Homo sapiens: one gene and its partners. The protein of the gene in region 4 purifies or fractionates together with the protein of the main gene of each other region. This does not show direct contact. Each region holds a gene or a part of one and is shown on either strand. Other genes may lie near its edges.

Region 1 (3,500 bases), on a different chromosome or scaffold from region 4:
CACCTAAGTTATCTGTGGATTTCTCTTTCTTTCTGTCCTCAAAAGCAACAGAGCCCATGATGATCTACCCTTGTTGAGCAGCATTTTAATACACAGTTTTGCTGTAACAGGTTTTTCTCTATGGGAAAGGAGCAGAGTGCTTGATAATGCTTGATGAATAAGCAAACCTAAAATGGCCCTAGTGGGAGGATGCTCCATATGAAATTTGGGTCTGCATCAGGCAAATACTGGCCGTAAAATTGTTGCAGGGCCCTACATGAGGGAGTGGCACCTATTGACAAATTACTGGCAAAAGGAGGTAGTTGAACTGCTTTCCAGAAGTGTACTGCTTTAAGGTGGTGACACATTTTCCCTCCTTTATTTCCTTTAACCAACTAGCTATACAGTTTGTGAGTACCTTTCCAAGTAACTGCTGCTAGCAGCAACCAATTAGAAGACTACATTCTGAGCCCTTAATCCACAAATTACAAGTCAGGATGCAAAGCAAACTCTTTGAACAAATTGCTGTTAAGAAAACATTTGCTTGCTTTTCGAGGTGCAGTGAACTGCTGGAGATTTGCTGTTAAAATGAACAAAATTATAAACAATCCTTTTATTACTTCATCTTTCTTATGCCCTCCTCCCCTTAAAAAATAAATACCTTGAATGCCCAGAACCCCAGATGAGAAACAAGGCAAAGGCTATCTGAATAATTTTAAAATTTCAGAATCTTTGTCTTTCTAAGTGCTGAACCTTTTCTGCATCCTGGGTTTATACATTTATCAACTGCTTTTAAAAATTAAATCATTTCTGTTTATAAAGCAGCCACCTCCTTTCAATTGTTGAAATCATGCCCAGATCTGAGGTTTCTTGAAATCCTTGTTTAGTGGAATCTAAGGGTGACCTAACTCTGTAGTTCAGAGCAGAGCTGGTTGTGCAAGAGAAACCATCAGGAATTTGCAGCCTGCTCCAGGATTCACAGATTCACCGATTCACCATTGCAGAGCCTGGGAAAGGCAGTTTCTGTGGTGAGGATCAATCAAGTTCCAGGCTATTGGGTGGCACCTGCTCTGGTGAGAGTGTGTGTGCAGGATTGCACATGTGTGTGCCAGGAGTGTGGAGTGTGTGTGTGCATGCACATGTGTGCATGTGTGTGTGGCTGGGGAGGGTGAGGGCTCCCAGTCATCGAGGTGGCAGGGTGGAAGGTGCTGTGTCAGCTGGGTAGAGTGGCTTTTACTTTCCCTTTGAGTCCTTACTACTGTCTCTGGGAGGAGTGTACCCCCCACCCTACCCCACTTCCCAGCTTTGGGGAGGATCCTGATTTTAGTCACTGGCCTTTGTCCTGCATGTATGCTATGTCCCCTTTTCTGCAGAGCCCCAGTGGCCCAGGTAGCCTTAGGAAGGAGCAGGATGAGGGGACGGAAGTGGCAGGAGGCAGGTCAGGGCTTGCATGGAATCATGTGATTCTGTTGTCTGCAGGCGGCTTGTTGTTCCTGGTTAACGTGTCAGTGGGGAGCGATTCAGGCTGCTGTGTGCTGGAAGGACCTGGAGAGTGTGCTGCTCACATGGCTGCCACCTTTATTATTACTGTCATTACTTTTACTGTTATTATTTAACTTGGGGTGTATTTTGGCTTCCTCTGACATCCGCCCCCTCCAACTCTCCCTTACCCCGTCATTCCTTAATCTCTTTTTCTCACGGGGAGCTTCACCCCAGTGTTCATTCCGTCCTGCTTTCCCCTGGTGGGTGGATGCTGGAGCCCAGATTGAGTTCTTCACTGAAGGGCTTTCTCTCCCTTTGTGACTGCCCAAGCCATTGCTGGTTTGCAAACCAGCCAGTGACGGGCTGCCTTGGTTTTCCCAACATCACGGTGCACTGAGATCTGCTTCCTTTTCCAGCCTGGGGAATTGAGGGGCAGCTGCCTTGTCTCTGCTTATCTTCATCCTCAGCTTATCTGACCCCAGAGACCTCCTTCTGGAGACCTCATGGTCTCCTCCTTCCCAAGGTCCCTGGAAGGCCATGTGCTGTTGTCCAGGGAATGCAGGGGCCTTTCAGTCTCCAGGCAGGAGGGAGGCCAGTGGCTGAGTTTGTTTGAGAGAGAGGCCTGGGTTGCTTGATGAGGCCCAGGGGAGCTGTGGAGAGAAAGCCCATTTCAGAACTGGGCGTTCAGTCTTTAAAAGAGAATACCTCCCAGGCCTTGGACTGCAAATCCTGGGAACAAAAATGAAGGTTAATATAGTGATTTTTTTCCCTTAAAATTTGAGAGCTGCATTGGAGAACATGAAACTTAAGCCCCTCTTTTCTGCCCACAAAGCAGAAAAGAGACACACAAGCCCCAACAAATCTCAGGACATTATATTTTAACTCTGTAGGCATGTAGAAATTGTAATAGCTCTCATTCAAAGAGAAAAAAGAGCACTTAGTCTTTTACCTGTGAGGAAACTGAAGATCCATAGAATGGAAAATAGGAGCTCTTCACCAAATAAATGTATAAATAACTCCCAGGCTTTTGATTGAATGAGTGCTTTGAGCTCTGGGGAAAAATATTATGTATGGCAGCAACTTTCCAGTTGTACTTATGAGTACCATGTCAATTCTTCTTTGCCCAAATAGTTCGCATGCCCTCTTCAATATTCAGCAATTATTTATAATGACAGATGTATGTGATTGGAAGAATGTGGGTACACCAGAGGCATAGATGGGCCTGAGCGACAGAATCCAGGGTTTGTACAGGTTTGAGGACTCTTGGGGAAGATGTAGGTTATTGGGTATCCATGAGAAAGTGTTTGGAATGATTTTGTAGCTGTAAAAAGCCCTTATAGTTAAGATCTCTTGTAAAGATGGATACATGAACAGTAATGGTAACTGGAGTGTGTGTCTGAGGAATGTGCTTTAGCATCTGGAATGCCAGTTAAAAGTTAATTGCTCCTGGTGATTTGTCCCAGTTCCACCATGAATTTTATGCAATTTATTGCAAAGATTAAATGGATATCCTTTAAGTAACAAGCTAACAAGGTCAGCTTATCTCACTGGGAGGTAGAGAAGTGACTGTAATTCCTATTCCGCCAAAAATGAGAAGACCCCAGTATTTTTGCAATTTATTTGTGACCTCAAGAATAAAATGGGCTCATGCAGATTAAGTAACTTGCACCAAGTTACACAGCTCGTGAGCAGTAGAAGAGGTCTCCAGACTCCCTCTGTTGGGATCCAGATCCCATGCACTTAGCCATCTGTCTTCCCTGGATTGAGAAATATCAACTGTAGAACAAGTGTCCACAGGACATGGGAGCATATGAGGTTAATTGGGCATGAGCTAGGGCATGAACAAGCTTTTTGTCTTCAGTGCACACTGACAGATACTATTCCTGGTAGTGGTGATGGTGGAAGTGATCCATCCACATACTAATTGTTTCCCTTAATGGCTAATAGTCATTAGGTATGAATTATTTATACTTAGGTGTTAGCATTTTGTACCTGGTAATTAGGTACAAAAATGGGAGAGCCACATTAAACAATGTACC
Region 2 (3,500 bases), on a different chromosome or scaffold from region 4:
ATTTTGTCTATATCAGTCATATTTTAAGGAAGGAGGAATGGACTTCTTACATTTATTTTAGAGTATGATGCTAAAACCCGTGATTCTTCAGAGTAACAGTTACAGGACATTTCTCTAGAATCTTGGAGTGTTGGGTAGCCATTGTGGTTCTGCCTCAGGCTTGTGCCAAATATCAGTATGGTGTCTTCCTACCATGCCGAACTTTAGCCCATAAATGTTTAGAACTAGTGTTTGTTGATAGATTGATTTTCTGAAAGTATATAGATTCCAATGATGACATTTCTAAGTCTTTTTATAAGACTAAAGATCTGCCTTAGAGTTTGACGATGGCTTTCCATCAGAATTAGACAGATTTTTTTAAGAGGTCATTATGAGGCTGGCCCTGGTGGCTCACACCTGTAATCCCAGCACTTTGGGAGGCTGAGGTGGGAGGATTGCTTGAGCCCAGGAGTTTGAGACTAGCCTGGGCCACATAGTGGCATAGCTGACATAATGAGACTTTGTCTCTACAAAAAATTTAAAAATTAGCTGGGCATGGTGGTGCGTACCTGTAGTCCCAGCTATTCAGGAGGCTGAGGTGGAAGGATTGCATGAGGCTGGAAGGTTGAGGCTGCAGTGAGCTTTGATCACACCAGTGTAACAGAGCAGTCTCAGAAAAAGAAAGAAAATCATTTCCATCTCTCATTAATTTCTGCCTCTATTTCAGAATAGCCTATAGTTCATACTACAAAAAGTGCCACAGAAGTACATCATTGTAATGTTTTACATTTTTAATATGTAAATGATTAAAATTACTTTGTTCTTGATTTTTAAAAATCGGTTACTTATTTTTAATTTTTTTTTTTTTTTTTTTTTTTTTTGAGACAAAATCTCGCTCTGTCTCCCAGGCTGGAGTGCAGTGGCATGATCTCAGCTCACTGCAAGCTCCGCCTCCCGGGCTCATGCCCTTCTTCTCTCTCAGTCTGCTGAGCAGCTGGGACTACAGGTGCCCACCACCACGCCCAGCTGATGTTTTGTATTTTTAGTAGAGATGGGGTTTCACCGTGTTAGCCAGGATGGTCTTGATCTCCTGACCTCGTGATCTGCCCACCTTGGCCTCTCAAAGTGTTGGGATTACAGGCATAAGCCACTGCACCCGACCCCTTTAAATTTTAATACTCTTAAAATTTTCCTTCTAGTAATAGTTACTTGTACTAAGAATACAGTCTTGGCCGTGCACAGTGGCTCATGCCCCTAATCCTGGCACTTTGGGAGGCCAAGCAGGAGGATCACCTGAGATTAGGAGTTTAAGACCAGCCTGGCCAACATGGTGAAACCGAGCCTCTACTAAAAATACAACCATTAGCTGGGCATGGTGGCGGGCCCCTGTAATCCCAGCTGCTCGGGAGGCTGAGGCATGCGAATCCCTTGAACCTGGAAGGCGGAGGTTGCGGTGAGCCAAGATTGCGCCACTGCACTCCAGCCTGGGTGACAGAGCGAGACTTCGTCTCAAAAGATAACCAGGCTTCCTTTAATGCTTCTTATGTGTATGGAAGTCAGTATTAATCTTTTTGTTAGTACACTTACGAAATGCACTAAGTTCTACAGATTATCCCCACCTATGTAGAATTTGCTTATTGATTTTTAAGAATCTCTGGCTTTACACTGAAAAAAAGTAGATTTAAAAATAAAATAAAAAAGTGGAACCTCAACGTAATTCAGAATCTTCTAAGTGAAGCCACTTGTATCCTATAGGAAAAGACATATTTGATTTAAAGTAGAAGTCGGAAAAGAAAACCTCTTTCAAGGTCAGGAACCTTGAAAGCCTCCTATATTAAAATATTAATTTTGTAAGGAAAAGCACGTTTTCCATTTATATAATTGGTAACTTAAGGGTGGAAATAAAAAATGGCTAACACATATACATACACAAAAGAAGAGGAATTGAGAATAATGCATGCAAGGGAATATACTGAATGGTTTCTTGGAATTGAATATGGAATTGAATATGTGATGAATGCGCACATGTTGTTTTGGAAAAGTTAATTCCTAGAATTGATATCCTTAATTTGAGATAATTCTAAAGGACCTAGAACCATTGTAAGATCCAGGATAGTACTTTTCCACAAAGTAAATGCTCAATGAAACCTTTTAAAAAGTTGAACTATTAAATTTTTAAATATTTTAGTAGATGATATGTATTCTAATAATACATATGGGATTGATTGAGCAGAGTTAATATTTTAAAAATTTGGAGGCTTACACATCATAGCTGACATTACTCCTGTGTTGGCAAAAGGATTTGGAAGGGAATATAAGTGAAGAGATATGTCTAGTGTTTTCCCTTCTTGATTAAAAAAAAAATTCTTATCCTTTTATCTTAAATATTTTACCCTTCTTTTTCTTTCTGCTATTAAGGGAAAAGCTTTCAGCAGCAAAGGGAAGCCATGAAACAAACCATAGAAGAAGATAAGGAGCCAGAAAAATCAGGTTAGACACTTGTATTTGACATAAGTAAATGGTTTCTTGGGTCTTCATCTGGAGCCATGTGTGAATCTGCATATTAGAACCGTGAAGAAGTACTCAGGGAAAGAGTGATACAAGAGGCAAAACTGATTATCTCAGAACTGTAAAGAAAGGATAAGATTTAAGTATTAAAGATTATCTGTCTATACTGTGTAGTTAATTGAAAATTGTAAATGCTTTCCTGAAAAATAGTCTTTATACAAACAGTGTAATAAGTATTTATAAAAGTAAATTAAAAACAAGCTGGGTGTGGTGGTTTGCACCTGTAATCCCAGCACTTTGGGAGACTGAGGCGGGAGGATCACTTGAGGCCAGGAGTTCAAGACAAGCGTGGCCAACATATGGAGATCTCGTTTCTGCAAAAAAATTTAAAGAATAAATGAATGAATAAATAGAGTTCTTCAATTTGAGTTATGTGGTTTTGTTCACGGGAACACATTTATAGTTATGTTTATGATTGCTCAACAGGAAAACTGTGGTGTGCAAAGAAGAATAAAAAGAAGAGGAAAAAGGTTTTATATAATGCCAATAAAAATGATGGTAAGTTCTACTCTCAGGGATAGGTGGAATTATATCTGAAAGGAGTCTAAACCTAGTCCTGTTTTGCACCTTAATGTTAAATATGTGCTTGAGAAAATCATTTAGTAGAAAGTATTTTCTTTTGGAATCCTGTGAGTAAGGCAGTGTTTTGAATTCTGGGGAAAACTGATACAAAAATTCAAGTACTATTTAGCATATGTAGTATTAAATTGACAGTTTCCTGTAGTTTTTTTCTACTTAAACTCTTTGCAAAAATTATACTTCTAACAAATTCTTACAGAACATACTTGAAGTAAAAACTATGTCCTCTACAATAGCTCATGTCACAGAAGCAACTCATTCCTGAGAACCCACTACCTGCTGGCTAAGTCAGACACACAAGAGAATTTTAGTTTTATTTTGATTGATTGCTAAGATTAAAAAGCTCGAAAGTTGTAGCTTCTCTTAAAATCAAA
Region 3 (4,054 bases), on a different chromosome or scaffold from region 4:
AGGGACTGTATCCTCTGTAACTTTGTGCTTCTTAGTATGGCATAATACATTTATGTATTAAATATTTGATAGCACTACTCACTGTATATTAAAGTAGAAGCCCAGTGTAACAAAATGCCAACCTCTCCCCTCTCTGTGACCCATGATCTCCCTGCGGTGTTCTCTCCTCATTCCAGGTCTCTCAGTGTACTTGTTCCTATTGCCTTTTCCTTTTGGCTAACTTCTTCTGGGCTACACTATCTAACATCTGGCTGTTGAGGTGACTACTAAATTGAATGCTAATTCAAACCTGGATGTTCACCTGTAACTAGGAATGTTGTTCTGGTCAAAAGTTAAGATTAACTGGAATGGTGACAACTGGTGTCTTTTTTATTCGCAGTCCTCAGTTTTGAACTCCTTTTTGGCTCTAAACTTGCTTGTGGGATTATCGGGGTTTTTTAAATTTTCAGTACTCCATTCTTGATTCGTCTAGAAAATCTGGGGGATTAATCTAAAAATTTATAGATTTCCTTTCAGTACAATTAGCCTAATTACTTGATTTTTAATCTTATTTTACCATTTAAAGGTTGAAGAAATCTTGATTATGATGAAAATAAATTTATTTTTCTTTCAACAGTGACATTGTGAGGAAGATTGATCAGTCTGAATTTGAAGGTTTTGAGTATATCAATCCTCTTTTGATGTCTGCAGAAGAATGTGTCTGATCCTCATTTTTCAACCATGTATTCTACTCATGTTGCCATTTAATGCATGGATAAACTTGCTGCAAGCCTGGATACAATTAACCATTTTATATTTGCCACCTACAAAAAAACACCCAATATCTTCTCTTGTAGACTATATGAATCAATTATTACATCTGTTTTACTATGAAAAAAAAATTAATACTACTAGCTTCCAGACAATCATGTCAAAATTTAGTTGAACTGGTTTTTCAGTTTTTAAAAGGCCTACAGATGAGTAATGAAGTTATCTTTTTTGTTTAAAAAAAAAAAAAACACTGCATTAAAAAAGTATCTGTTGCATTAAGGCACATAGTGGGATTACATCATAAACCTCCCATAATTTTTGTCATTCTGTGTTAAATCATTTCAGGGTTTAATTTTGAAATAAAAGATTAATATAAAATGCAACAACTTTTTATATTACCTATTAGTTTTGGAGTTCTTTATGTTTAAAAATTCAGGTGTAAATTTTATTGCCTTGGATAAATAAATTATTGATCTTTTTTAAGGCAGCAGTTATTAAATTGGTAATAGAAGATGCTGCTTGCTTAGAATTGGGAAATTCGGCTGGGTGCAGTGACTCAATGCCTGTGATCCCAGTACTTTGGGAGGTTGAGGCGGGCAGATCACTTGAGGTCAGGAGTTTGAGATTGGCCTGGTCAACATGGTGAAATCCTGTCTCTACTAAAAATACAAAAATTAGCTGGGCATGGTGGCACATACCTGTAATCCCAGCTACTCGGGAGGCTGAAACAGGAGAATCGCTTGAACCCAGGAGATGGAGTTGGCAGTGAGCCAAGATTAGCCTGGGCAACAGTGAGTGAGACTCGGTCTCAAACAAAAACCAAATTGGGAAATTCTTCTTGAGTTAAAAAAGACACTTTTTATTATGAATCAGATTCCAAATCATTAACTATTTTTGCAAAACTGGCACAAGTGGTTTTTCTTTTTAAGTATATTAACAGGGTAGCTCCTGAGCCTTTCCCTTTATTGGAAACTTTAACTGCAGTGTTAATATATACACTGCAAAAGACCAAGGATGCAGTTGAATGGAAAATTACTCAGTGTATAGAAAGGAAAAAAACCAGAAATTTAAAATAGATACAGAAAAGTACACTGGTAATATTTTTATTTCCTATTGGAGAGTGAATCCCCACAGTTGCTTTTTGTGACTTGATTCAAATGAGGCACTCATTATTGTTACCAAACTTGTAAAAGCATTCCATGTATTCAGTGGAGGCAGAATGTATAATATTTTTTCCTTATAATTTAGCATACAGGAAAAGTATTTATTTTTTAAGTAGGGTATCTTAATTATGCTCATTTCTTCCCCTAAACCACATTATCTATATGATTGGACCCTTTAGTGAAATCAGAAAAATAAAGTAGGCATGAATAAATGTTCAGGACACACACATACACTCACACACATCACAGTATCAGCTCTTTCAGTGAGTTTTTATTAACTAGATAACACATGTAATACATAGTAGAATACATTTCAGAGGCAGAGTTCCTCGGATTATTTTTTATGGATATTAGTGTTCAGCAGCTTATTATTTAAAGGGGTGCCAAATATAGCATCCTTCTGTTGTTTATTTTAAATATATTTTTAATGAAAAGGGACTTAAAAAGTAAACATGATTATCTAAATTACTTAAAATTTTTTAATCTTAGTAAAAATTTTAGGAAAGTTATCTAGTTTAAATTTCAAATGTTTTAAAATTTGTAGGCATTTAATAAATTATCTTTTTTTGGAGGGGTGGATGCTGCATTTCATTGGAAATGTCATTTTTCCAAAGTTTCTAGCTATATACTCTCTTTCCTTCAAATAACATAAGTCTGAAAGCAATGAAAACGTCAAAGGAAAATGTTTATATACATCCACATGTTTATTTAATATGTTTCTCTTAACACCTGAAACTTGTTTTAAAACAAAAAGCAGTATTCACTTCAAATCATAAACTTAGAATTCTGTATCTCATGTCAGAAATATGTTTATGGCCTTGCTTTTAAGTGGTGCTGTTTCCCATAGGGCATTAGTTCTCAGATTTTGGAATGTGAAATAATCACCTAGGAAGTTGGTTTAAAATGCACACTAGTGAGCCCACCTTAGACTTCTTTTGGGGCCTTCGACCTCACTTTGAGAAATACCTTCTTCAGGTTATTCTTTATGTTTGTCCTGTGGTTAAATATTAGAGTATTCATGATAAAACATTTTGAGAAGGGGTAAGCAGTGAGTTATTACCCACAATTTAAAGCAAATTTTGAATGAATCTTTAAGTTAGGTATCTACCTTCCCACCAGCCCCCCAAAAAACCTCTCAGTAGTTTCTTTCAGTGTACAAAATGATGAGCATTTTTCTATGATGAGGTTTTAACCATTATTCAGGGTGGTCTTTTGTTTTTAAATCTTTTTTTAACTAATAAGATTTACGGTGTGTATTTTATACAGAAATGCATTATAAATGTTTTTAATTGTGTTCTGTTTTTTGCAGTCTTTAAGTGCCATGCCAATTGTTCTTATATTCTATAGAAGTTCGCTCAAAATACTCAACAGGGGAATAGGCAGCGGACAGTCAGAATGGTTGGAATTTTGGCTTTCTAAGAAAAACTTTATTTTGCATAAGCATGTGGTCAGATCATTTTGTGCATATGCAGCCTGGATTGGATGTTAAGTAAATGCTTGTTCAGTGCCGGTACATTTACTTAAATCTGTTTTTATTTTTGTCATGTAGAATACTACTGTGGTCATCATAATGTAATCTATTTCTGTACCTTTTTTTTTTTTTTTTACTTTGAAGTCTTTAAATAAAATGTATAATACCCATTGAGAGTGGATCATTTTTCATATGTAGTATGTCAGAAATTTGTATAAGAACAAAGATGCATCAAAATTTGTTCAAGAAAAAGTGAAAATTTCAGAGTTTGGAATTTTGCTGTACTTAAAGCACCATTCTGGTAGAACTGATGCTGTCGTATTTACATTTAATAATGTTACATTTAGCTGGACATAGTGGCTCACACAGCACTTTGGGAGACTGAGGTGGGAGGATCACTTGACCCTAGGAGTTTGAGTTCAGCCTGGGCAATATAGTGAGACCCCATCTCTACATACAGAAAAATAAGAAATTAGCCAGGCATGCCGGCAAAGTGCCTATAGTCCCAGGAGGCTGAGGTGGGAAGACTGCTTGAGCCCAGGAGGTTGTGGCTGCAGTGAACTATGATCATGCCACTGCACTCCAGCTTGGGCAACAAAGTGAGACCCTGTCTCTCAAAAAATATTTAATGTTATATTTATTAATGTAGATATTATTAAAAATTAGGAAT
Region 4 (3,500 bases):
TTTTTTGAGACGAAGTTTTGCTCTTGTTGCCCAGGCTGGAGTGCAATAGCACAATCTCGACTCACTGCAACCTCCGTCTCCCAGGTTCAAGCGACTCTCCTGCCTCAGCCTCCCGAGTAGCTGGGATTACAGGCGCCTGCTACCACGCCTGGCTAATTTTTTTGTATATTTAGTAGAGATGGTGTTTCACCATGTTGACCAGGGTGGTCTTGAACTTCTGACCTCAGGTGATCCACCCACCTTGGCCTCCCAAAGTGCTGGAATTACAGGTGTCAGCCACTGCACCCAGTCCCACTTACTATTTTAAAGTGACAAAGCCAGACTTGACTCAGTGTCCTCTAATGATCTTTATGGAGAGCTTATCTACTACAGGGAATCGTGAATCGTGTGGTATGCAATCCCATGTTTGGGTGGAACAACAAACACATACACATTTTTTTCCATAGTGGAAAAATGAGCTTGTCACTTGACTTGTCTCTCGGCCTCAGTTTCCTCATTTGCAAAATGCCATAAAAATATGATGAGCAATAGTGTTTGGCACGTGACAGACAATGGATAAGGATCTTTAAAGACAATCATGATTATTTATCACCATTATCACCAGGTGCCAGTTATTGTTCTCACTGTTAGTGATACAAAGACAAACAATGCACTTAGAAGAAATTCCTGGAATACAGTGAAATGCTCACAGCCCGACTCTCCAAGAAAAGCCACGACAGATGTAGGACTGGAAGGCTGTCCCAGGGTCATCTCATCCTAGCAGCCACCTGATGCCTGCATCTTGACATTTTATCCTTCCAAGTCTGTTACCCGTCAGTGGATCCCAGGGGCTACCCCAGGGACGAATCCAACAAGTAACCACCACTGGGCGGGGAGGAAGCCAGTGTGGGGGTTGCTACCAAAACAGGCCTGGGCAACAGCAGGCAGCCGACTGGGGAAAGTCAGCAGCTGCAGTTGGCCTGGTGTCCTCGCTGCCAGAGAGTGATGAATGGAGCAAGAGAAGAAAAAAAAAGCCAACAAAGGTGTCCCTAATCTTGATGCAGCTTCATTTTTTTTTTTTTTTCTGGCTGACCATTGAGTGAGAACTTAAGCCTCCGTCCCTTTTCTTTGGCAGACATTTGAAACTGAAAGATCTCATTTCTTCCCAACAGTGAGATGTCATGGGTAGAAGCATTGAGCAGGCAACTGGCAAGGGGTGGGGGGTGGGGAGAATGGGCATGTGACCCACCACACTTGTCCTTTTTCTTTCCCTCCTCCCCACTCTCTGCTCCACCCCCTCTTCCCCATCCTGCATCTTTAGAGAATATTCTCCGCACACAACAGTGAACGCCTGCCCCCTCCTCCCGCCACCCCATTATTATTTTTCTGCTCAGGAACTAAAGGCTAAATGGCCTGCTGGGGAAGGTCTAATAACAAAATGTCACTGTATCCAGTTTCTTAGTTTTCTCTTTCTTTATCTCACTCTGAAACGGATTCGAGGCAGCAGCAACTGAACCTTTGCTGTTCTACCTAAAGGTGTGCAGCCAGCTGGCCATCTCCATGCTGGGAGAGGCAAGACGGGAGTTTTTTGCCCAGATCTAGCCCTCAGCCCTGTCCAAGTGGAGGTGCTTCCCTTAGCAAATAGCGAGGAGCTGGTGATAGGGATGTCACCAGGCCACTTCTCCAAGTGAAGTGGATTCCTCTTATCCAGGGCCCCTTGCTGAACTGGAGGCTGCAGAGCCTCATCACCTAGCACCACATGTGGCTGGAGAGAGCTCCTGATACACGTCATGGACAGCCACCTGACATTAGGTCGGCATTCCCTGCAAGTGCCACTGAAGCCTGATCAAGGCTTCTGCCACTGAGGGAACCGTGCAGCAAGACGGTGGCCACCTTCGACTCACACTTATTCTAGCCCTGTTTCTCCTTACGTGCACCTGAACTTGGCGTGCCAACCTTCCAGGTAACTAAGGCAACCTGATTCTCTTCCCTTCAAAAGGGCAGTGTTCTTCTCACAGCAATCTGGGACCCCAGGGAATTGGAAAATTGGGTCAGTTTGGATAAGCCCTCTCCCCGGGAGGGGGAGGGATGGCGACAGAGAGGAACGGCCTTGGCTACTCATTCCCTGGCTGTTGGGAGCATTTACCCAAGCGACTTGGAAAGGACTGTGAACTCCTTGTACACACTGCATCCTTCAAAGAGTCCCTCTGCCTCCATCTCTCTCTCTTCTCCCATCCCCAAAGCTCTGGTTAGCCAGCTGCTCCCAGAAGGTGGAGTTTATGCCAAACAGTCTCCTAAGCTGCCATGAGGATCTCACTGGCTTCTCTGGTTAAGGCTCCTTAGCAAAGTCTCTCCCTGAGATCCACATCAGGTTCACCCATTTTAAGAATAAATGGTAACTCTCAAGCCCAGCTGTCAACAGGGCACTCTGGGGCCCTGAGATGGATTAATAAGCCAGGACAGAGCCAGACCAGGCTACAGCTAGTATGAGTGTAGATGCAAGAATCCAGCTAGGTGGGCTCCAGTCCTGGATGCAACACCTGTTGGTGATCTTGAGCAAGTTACTAAACCTTTTTTTTTGAGATGGCGTTTCGCCCTTGTTGCCCAGGCTAGAGTGCAGAGGCGCGATCTCAGCTCACTGCAACCTCCGCCTCCTGGGTTCAAGCGATTCTCCTGTCTCAGCCTCCTGAGTAGCTGGGATTACAGGTGCGTGCCACCACACCTGGCTAATATTTTGCATTTTTAGTAGAGACGTGGTTTCACCATGTTGGCCAGGCTGGTCTTGAACTCCTGACCTCAGGTGATCCACCCACCTCGACCTCCCAAAGTGCTGAAATTACAGGAGTGAGCCACTGCGCCCGGCCGGTTACTTAACCTTTCTAAATTTCAGTTCCCTCATCTGAAGTACTTACCCCATATGGCTGTTGAAAAGATAAAATGAGGTCACAAAATAGAATGCTTAGCTCAGTGGGCAGCAGAGAGTAAACACTCAATAGATGCTGGTATTGACTATTATTTTATTCTTCTCTGGGTTACCAAATCTCTTGCTTCTCCCTATTATCTATCCTAGTGTTTTTAAACCTCATTTCTTTCTTAATAATTGACATAGGATGTTCCCAGGCATGGTAGACTCCCATGGAATACGTAGATCTTAAACTCAAGCCTCAGAAAAAGATAAAAAGCCCTCTAATCACTTGTATGTAAGTATTATTATTATACATCTACAGGTATTAGTGGATCATTAAGAGCAGCAGCATGGAGAATAAAGAGGTTCTGGGTAACTTCCCTGGCAGACTGGTTATAACTCTCACTTAAGAAACCTTGTTGGGTGGGGCACAGTGGCTCACACCTGTAATCCTAACACTTTGGGAGGCTGAGGCAGGCGGATAACTTGAGGTCAGGAGTTCGAGACCAGCCTGGCCAACATGGTGAATCCCTGTCTCTACTAAAAATACAAAAATTAGCTGGGTGAGGTGGCATGCACCTGTAATCCCAGCTACTCGGGAGGCTGAGGCACGAGA

What was found.
Region 1: the proteins of WWC1 (region 4) and AMOT purify together in Homo sapiens (affinity purification with mass spectrometry; 3 studies listed by BioGRID and IntAct, with this or other methods). This does not show direct contact.
Region 2: the proteins of WWC1 (region 4) and PALS1 purify together in Homo sapiens (affinity purification with mass spectrometry; 2 studies listed by BioGRID and IntAct, with this or other methods). This does not show direct contact.
Region 3: the proteins of WWC1 (region 4) and PRKCI purify together in Homo sapiens (affinity purification with mass spectrometry; 3 studies listed by BioGRID and IntAct, with this or other methods). This does not show direct contact.

What each region holds. Positions count from the first base shown.
Region 1 is NC_000023.11:112,816,832-112,820,331, reverse strand, and holds part of AMOT (angiomotin), read left to right. Parts: intron 1-893; exon of another isoform or gene 894-1,007; intron 1,008-3,500.
Region 2 is NC_000014.9:67,314,435-67,317,934, forward strand, and holds part of PALS1 (protein PALS1), read left to right. Parts: intron 1-2,397; coding exon 2,398-2,469; intron 2,470-2,973; coding exon 2,974-3,045; intron 3,046-3,500. UniProt on the Homo sapiens protein: Plays a role in tight junction biogenesis and in the establishment of cell polarity in epithelial cells.
Region 3 is NC_000003.12:170,302,424-170,306,477, forward strand, and holds the end of PRKCI (protein kinase C iota type), read left to right. Parts: intron 1-616; coding exon 617-704; 3' UTR 705-3,554; downstream 3,555-4,054.
Region 4 is NC_000005.10:168,298,145-168,301,644, reverse strand, and holds part of WWC1 (protein KIBRA), read right to left. Parts: intron 1-3,500. UniProt on the Homo sapiens protein: Regulator of the Hippo signaling pathway, also known as the Salvador-Warts-Hippo (SWH) pathway.